Homo sapiens: one gene and its partner. The protein of the gene in region 1 purifies or fractionates together with the protein of each later gene. This does not show direct contact. Each region holds a gene or a part of one and is shown on either strand. Other genes may lie near its edges. The genes, in order: ABHD8 and RIC8B.

What was found.
Region 2: the proteins of ABHD8 (region 1) and RIC8B purify together in Homo sapiens (affinity purification with mass spectrometry; one large-scale study listed by BioGRID and IntAct). This does not show direct contact.

What each region holds. Positions count from the first base shown.
Region 1 is NC_000019.10:17,293,403-17,297,220, forward strand, and holds part of ABHD8 (protein ABHD8), read right to left. Parts: intron 1,444-3,818; coding exon 1,273-1,443; intron 1,103-1,272; coding exon 886-1,102; intron 1-885. UniProt on the Homo sapiens protein: Negatively regulates NLRP3-driven inflammation. Promotes NLRP3 degradation through the chaperone-mediated autophagy (CMA) pathway, hence attenuating inflammasome activation and IL1B secretion.
Region 2 is NC_000012.12:106,882,407-106,886,224, forward strand, and holds part of RIC8B (chaperone Ric-8B), read left to right. Parts: exon of another isoform or gene 1-3,038; intron 3,039-3,497; coding exon 3,498-3,609; 3' UTR 3,610-3,818.

The DNA of each region.
Region 1 (3,818 bases):
AGGATTTTGTCAACTTCAACTCTACCAACATTAGGAGCTGGATCATTCTTTGCTGGGGGGGCGGGGGTGGGCGGGGAAGGGGCGGGTAGCTGGGGTGGGGGCTGCTATCCTGTGCATTTGTAGGGTGTTGAGCAGCATCCCTGGCCTCCACCCACTAGATGCCAGTAGTACCCCCTCCCCCTCAGTCGTGACACCTAAAAATGTCTCCATGCATTTCCACGTGTTCCTTGGGGGCAGAATCCTCCTTAGTTAAGAACCACCAGTCCAGTTATACTTTAATGGTTTTTGTTTTTTTTTTTTTTTCTTTAAGAAACGGGGTCTTGCTCTGTCGCCCAGGCTGGAGTGCAGTGGTGCGAGCATGGCTCACCACAGCCTTGAACTCCTGGGTTCAAGCGATCCGCCCCACTCAGCCTCCCAAGTTGCAGCGATTATTGGCGTGAACCACCTCGCCGGGCTAGTATCCAGGGCTATTCTAAGTGCTAAGGATCCCCAGACCCTTTCTAATCTGAACTCGCTAATTAGAGTTTCTAATCTAAAGATCCCCTGGTGCCGGTCTTCTAGAATTATATAGGTCACCGGTCTCATACAAATCCTCCGCTGTGAGGAGAGCCTTCTTACAGCGGTGGGGACAGTGCGTAATTGCTAACACCTGTCCAGGGCAGCCCTGCTTTCTAGATTCTACTTCTGATGCTAGACCTAATGCTCCTGTTTGCCTGGGGTCAGAACAAGATACAGCAACTAGAGGCCACGCCCACCCGGCAGCCACGCCCCCTCGGGAAGAAAGCACGCCCACCAAGCGCTACCACGCCCCCCGCAGAGGCCACGCCCCTCCCGGGCAGCACCCTGGGGATTTGTAGCTGTGGCGCCCCAGGTGCCCGCCTCTACCTCGGCCATGCGCTGGTCTTCCTCCACCGGCACAAACTTATCGTGCATGCCGTGGACAAGCAGGACGGGCACGGTGAGCTCGGCGTGGTAGACCTCGTCGCCCTCGGGCCAGTACTGGCCGCTCATCATGGCCCGGAGTACGAAGGATGACACGTTGAAAGCGTTGCCCTCCTTTAACAGCTGCTTCTCCTTGGCTCCTTGGCGGGCGAAGCCGGCCCTGGTGGTGGTGGAGGCACCGCTAGAGCCCCTTATGCCAGCCCGACTGCCGTGGGGTGCCCCCGATGCCAGCCCTAGTCCCAGCGGTACAGTCCCCCCTCCCATCCAACTCGAGCAGATGCCTGGGTTCGCCAGGGCCAGGATCACGGTCTTTGGGGTGGGGACACTCACTTGAGGAAGCTCCAGGCCAGGCAGGGCGACAAGCAGTGCAGGACGCAGGTGGGCATGTTGAAGATTGAGCAGAAGCTGGGCTCCAGCGCCGTAGGGCCCCCGCCATTGATCATGATCACCTTGTGCACTAGGTCTGGGTACTCATGTGCCAGGAATGTGCAGAAAGAGACACTGCCCGGAACGGGTGGGGTGATAGGAGGATTGAAGGGAGGCGGTCAGCAGGATACAAGCAGTGACCATTTTGTTTTGCTTTGTTTTTGTTTTTGTTTGAGACAGTTTTACTCTGTCCCCCAGGCTGGAATGCAGTGGCTCCATCTTGGCTCACTGCAACCTCTGCCTCCCAGGTTCAAGCGATTCTCCTGCCTCAGTCTCCCGAGTAGCTGAGATTGCAGGCGCACACCACCACACCCAGGTAATTTTTTTTTTTTTTTTTTTTTTTTTTGAGACGGAGTCTCGCTCTGTCGCCCAGGCCGGACTGCGGACTGCAGTGGCGCAATCTCGGCTCACTGCAAGCTCCGCTTCCCGGGTTCACGCCATTCTCCTGCCTCAGCCTCCCGAGTAGCTGGGACTACAGGCGCCCGCCACCGCGCCCGGCTAATTTTTTGTATTTTTAGTAGAGATGGGGTTTCACCATGTTGGTCGGGCTGGTCTCAAATTCCTGACCTCAAGTGATCCATCCGCCTCGGCCTCCCAAAGTGCTGGGATTACAGGCCTGAGCCACTGCGCCTGGCCTGGTTTGTTTTTGTTTTTGAGATGGAGTCTCATTCTGTTGCCCAGGTTGGAGTACAGTGATGCAATCTCAGCTCACTGCAACCTCTGCCTCCTGGGTTCAACTGATTCTCCTTCCTCAGCCTCCCGAGTAGCTGGGAGTACAGGCATGCACCACCACACCTGGCTAATTTTTGTATTTTTTAGTAGACACAGGGTTTCAGCATGTTGCTCAGGCTGGTCGAGAACTCCTGACCTCAAGTGATCCACCCACCTTGGCTTCCCAAAGTGCGGGGATTACAGGCATGAGCCACTGGGCTGGCCTGTTTTGTTTTTGTTTTTGAGACAAGGTTTCGCTGTCGCCTAGGCTGGAGTGGTGCGGTGGCGTAATCATAGCTCCCTGCAGCCTTGACTTCCTGGGCTCAAGAGATCCTCCCACCTCAGCCTTCTGAATAGCTGGGACTACAGGCATGTGCCACCATGCTCAGCTAATTTTTAAAAATTTTTTTATAAAGACAGGGTCTCCTTATGTTGCCCAGGCTGGTCTTGAACTCCTGGGCTCAAGTGATCCTCTGGCCTTAACCTCCCAAAGTGCTGGGATTATAGGCGTGAGCCGTGACACCCGGCCTGGTGAGGGGGTTCATGTCCTCCCCCTACCCAGAAGGCAGGTCCTTGGAAGCCAAGATTCTTCCCCTGGGGTCCATGGACACCTGAAGGGGTGAGGGATGAGTGCGGCCTCTCAAATACCGTGAAAGTGTGAGTTTGAGTGTTGAGGATGGAACTTATTTTGAAGAGAGAATCTGGATCCAGAAGTTTCACCAGACTTTTTATTTTAATTGTTTAAAATTTTTGTAGAGATGGGGGTCTCACTATGTTGCCCAGGCTGGTCTTGAACTTCTGGGCTCAAGTGATCCTTCCACCTTGGCCTTCCAAAGTGTTAAGATTATAGATATGAGCCACTGTGCCCGGCCCTCATCAGATTCTTCAAGCCACCATGACCCAAAAGCGGTAAGAATTACTCATCAGCAAGTGGTAGGAAAGCAATCTGATTAAACAAATGCTTCCGGCTGCCCAGGGGAGGTCACTGTTTCCTACTATCCCTTCCCTTTCAGGATGTTCTGCCACCTGCCTCTGGGCATGACATATCTGTCTTCCTTATACAAGATGGAAGGCCTGAGAAGCCCCCAAAGCTGAGCTCCTCATTCCTACAAAAGCAGGGGTCAACAAACTATGTACGGCCTGTGGGCTAGTCATTTGCTTTTTTAAATACAGTTTACACTTTTGGAGATTTGAAAAATGTTTCCTAAATAAGGTTTTTTTTTTTTTTTTTGAGATGGAGTCCTGCTCTGTTGCCCACGCTGGAGCACAGTGGCGCGATCTCGGCTCACTGCAACCTCCGCCTCCCGGGTTCAAGTGATTCTCCTGTCTCAGCCTCCCGAGTAGCTGGGATTACAGGCATCTGCCATTATGCCCGGCTAATTTTTGTATTTTTAGTAGAGACGGGGTTTCACCGTGTTAGTCAGGCTGGTCTTGAACTCCCGACCTCAGGTGATCTGCCCACCTTGGCCTCCCAAAGTGCTGGGATTAGAGGCGTGAGCCACCGTGCCTGGCCAAAAAATGTTTCCTAAATAAAGTTTTATCAGAAGTTCCAACAGTGACTGTATGGCCTGCAAACCTAAAATATTCGCTATCCGATCCTTTAAGGAAATGTTTGCCAGCCCCTGCTGTAATGAGGAAAGGATACAGACAGGAGTCAGGCAGACCTGATTGTGTCAGGGACTTCCTGTATGCCTTTGGGCAGGTTGCTTCACCTCTCTGAGCTTCAGCCTCCACATTCC
Region 2 (3,818 bases), on another chromosome or scaffold:
TGTGCTTTTCACTATACCACAATAACAACGAATATTTGTTCTGTACAATTCACAACTCTTTGGTCTACCTTATTATTATTATTATTATTACTACCACTACTTACATCTTCACTAGTCAGTAGGTACAGCCAAGATTATCACGACCCCCATTTCACTGGTAGGGAAACTGAGACTCGGAAGCTTGCCCAAGATCACACAGCTGGTAAGTGGAGGAGAACCAGGACTTCAGACAGACTTCCTGACTCCAGATCTTTTTTTTCTTTCCATGACATCACATTGCTGCCTTAATTCATTTGCACAATGCATGATTGTATGGCCAGTGTTCACTGACACCTTTCCTACAGAAGTATCAATGAGCCCAGGCATTACGTAGAGCCATGTGGAGAAGAAAATAATTCATACCTTCAGAGGAGCTTCCATTTTAGTGGGGGTTGATACAAAGCACCCAGAAAGTAAATGCTTGAGAATAGTTCACAAGTAAGAATTAAAATATAGGCCCGTTGTTCCATAATGAAATCCTATAATTTGGCCATAAAACTAATATTTTTAATTATTTGCATAATTGGATTAGGGAGCAAGGGTAAAGCTGATAGACTTATTTGAAAATATTACTTCTGGGTTTAGATGAGAAAGTGCTAGATACTTCACACAAGTTAGTAGCTAGCCCCAGAATCATCTTTTTATCAAAGAGATGCAGTAGTTTTAGTCTCAGGAGTGATGGTATATCCACCCAGCAGTTTATCACTCAGTCCCATCTGCCAATCCTACTTTTACCTATCCCTACCCTTCAGTCCCCACCCCACACCTGAGTTTACCAACCCCTTCAGACCCTCAGTGTTTCATTCCCAGCAGGTTCTCCCTCTTCTCCTTTTGCTTCAGTTGTTAATATGTAGTGTCCAACATCACAAAGTCCTTTAGCACAATCAGAACTAGGAATTTATTTAAAATATAGGTATGTAATTTACGTCAGTGCTAGAGAGAAGTTTTAATGGAAACGTTGTTTCTAGCTCTCCACTGAACATTTCTACATGGTTGTCATGTAGGCACCTCAAGCCCTTCAAGTCCTAAAATATATCAGAATCTCCCCACCAAATCTCCATCTCCTATGTCCTGGCCCCATTGAATAGAGTCACCATCCACTTGGTCATCTGAGCTGAAACAACAGGAACTCTCTACTTACTACTCTCATTCTCCAACCCCTTTTCCTCCCAGTGAGTCATGAGATCTACCTCAGAAATGTTGCCTTTTCTTCCCACAACCTCAGACTTAATCCAGCTGTCTGTCTCCTCCCCCACACACTATTATGATGACCCCCCTAATGACTTGTCTATCTGCCACCAATTCCAATGTGTCTATCATGCTGCTGCCAGAGGTACTTTCTTATAAAACAAACGTAATCAAACACTCTTTATAGGGTAAAATCTAAACTCCTTATTTTGGCATTTAAGACATTTTTGACTATTGCATCCCAAACTACCCTTGCAGCCTTACCTCCTGCCCCTCCTTCATTGAACCTCACCATTCCCCAAACACTGGGCCCTTTCCCGGCTTCATGAGAGCACAGAGATAGAAAAGATGAGCTGACACAATCCAAAAAGGTTTAAAAAGATAGAGAATCACACACGTCAGTGGGACCATTCAGAGCTCTTTACAGTCTCTTTTATCTGAAATGCTCTGTGCCCATCTGCCTAGTGCAGGGCCACTCACTGACACCTCACTTGACAGTGCCCTCCCCAGGCAGCCTGGTCAGTGCTTCATCTCAGGAGCTGCCTCACTTCTTTGTTCATAATTCTCTTACAGCATTTACCTCATTCTGCTCAAAATGACTTTTGCATATATTTGTTTTCCGTGCTCCTCAAAGGCAGCAGCTGTACCCAGTCTTCCTTACCTCCCAGTATATGACATAGTTCCTGTCACATAGTCATTGAACAGATGTTGAAGACATGAACTCAGTGTGCTCCTCCAATGCAGTTAGGGCAATTAATCCAGATGTGGTGGGCTGCAAAGATCACTGGACTAGGATTCAGGAGACCCATGTCCCAGGTCCAGCTCTGCCACTAGATAAGTGACCTTGGATGAGTCATTCAGTCTCCTTTATTAAAGAAGGGGGTTGGACTAAATGATCTCTCAGACCCCTTCCAACTTTAAGTTCTATGATTCTGACCCCATTTCTTGGATTGGGAAACACATTTCCTCCCTCATAGTATTCAGGAGCCTCAATTTAGCCTGTCAGACGTTCACATTTCCCAAGCAAAGCTTTCAAACACTTCGAAGTTGTCTACTGAGCTAGCCAGAGCTCTTCATTAGGCTCCTGTTGGCTTATCCATTGACCACTGAGCTGTTCTCACTCCTCCCCAGGAGATTTCACTGTGTCTGTAACACCATTACACTACTGTGTGGCTGCCCCTTCCCAGGAGGGAGCCCTTCTTTCTGTTGGCCTAAGGGACAACTGTGAGGAGGGAGTCATTTCCCCTCCATCCAAATCCCACCAACATTATAGCTGCTGCCATGTGGGTTTTTGCTTATGGACATGTTTTTGGGGGGTGATGCCCATTTCTGTGATAAATAAGTTTTAAGCAGTTCATGGGGCTCTTCAAGGCCACTCTTAAGTACACTGCTGACCTTTCTAGGGATGGGAGGACTGGAGTTAGCAACTCAACAGGTACATTCACCATAATCTCCATGTAATAAATAAGAGCCTATGAAAAGATTAAATAAATCTTTCCTAATGCTTTTTGACTGGCTTAATCAATAATTAATCATCTTTAGATGAGGCTGTAACTTGTGGAGTAGATATAATTGGATTAGCTGAAAAGCGGCAGTTGCGGAGCTTTGAAGAGATTAAAATGGCTGTCAATCCCATAATTAAACTGCCACAAACAAAAGCAATGGTGTTTTTTAGAAAGGAGGAGGAGGAGGAAAGAAAGAGTGAAAGAGAGAGAGAGAAGGAAAGAAAAGTCGGGGAGAGAGTTGGGGAAGGCCAACTAATTTGAAATGAATCAACATGTACTTACATATCACTAGAGACTGAGGCAAAATCAAAACCGACAGATTTATTCCATTGAATGAAGTGTATGCATATCAAATCAGCCATTTAATTGTATGCTCCAACCACTGGGGCAGGTGAAATTTTGGCAGCTTCAACTTGTCTAAAACAAAACCAATCCACCAAAAAAAAAAAAAAAGGTTAATTATTCAAAACAGAAGAGACCTGCTCCTTGTCCTGAGCCCATTTAGACCTTGACTTTTCATACTTTTAATTGGCTTAGTAGGTTTGGCCTGTGTGAATGAAGTCTTTTATCTCCCTCTTCCCTCTTTTTCTTTCCATGCCCCTTTCATCTTTCCTATTACAAACACACAGAGAAAGCTCAAGGGAAAATACTTTGGTTTTTAAAGACTTTTCTTTTTAAAAGGTTGTGGATTTGGGTGGGGGGGAGGGGTGTGTGTGTGATGCTGGTGAATACTTTTTTTTCTCTCTCTTTTATCTCTTTTTCTAGAGAGGAGTTGCTTAAACCAATGGGACTAAAACCTGATGGGACAATAACGCCTTTGGAGGAAGCACTCAACCAGTACTCTGTCATCGAAGAGACCAGCTCTGACACAGACTAAAAGCATCACCTGCTCAACTCTCAATATTGCTTTATCAGCATCTTTTCTCTGTAGCTCCAGGGGAATCTTTTCTCTAAAACATTTATGCCCTTGCTTTGGCTAGAAACACATTAACTGGTTTACTCATTGAGAATCCAGCATATTTAAGAGGTGACCCTGTGTTTTTTGTGATATTGAGGCATTCATACAGAGCTGCAGTTAGACGGGGT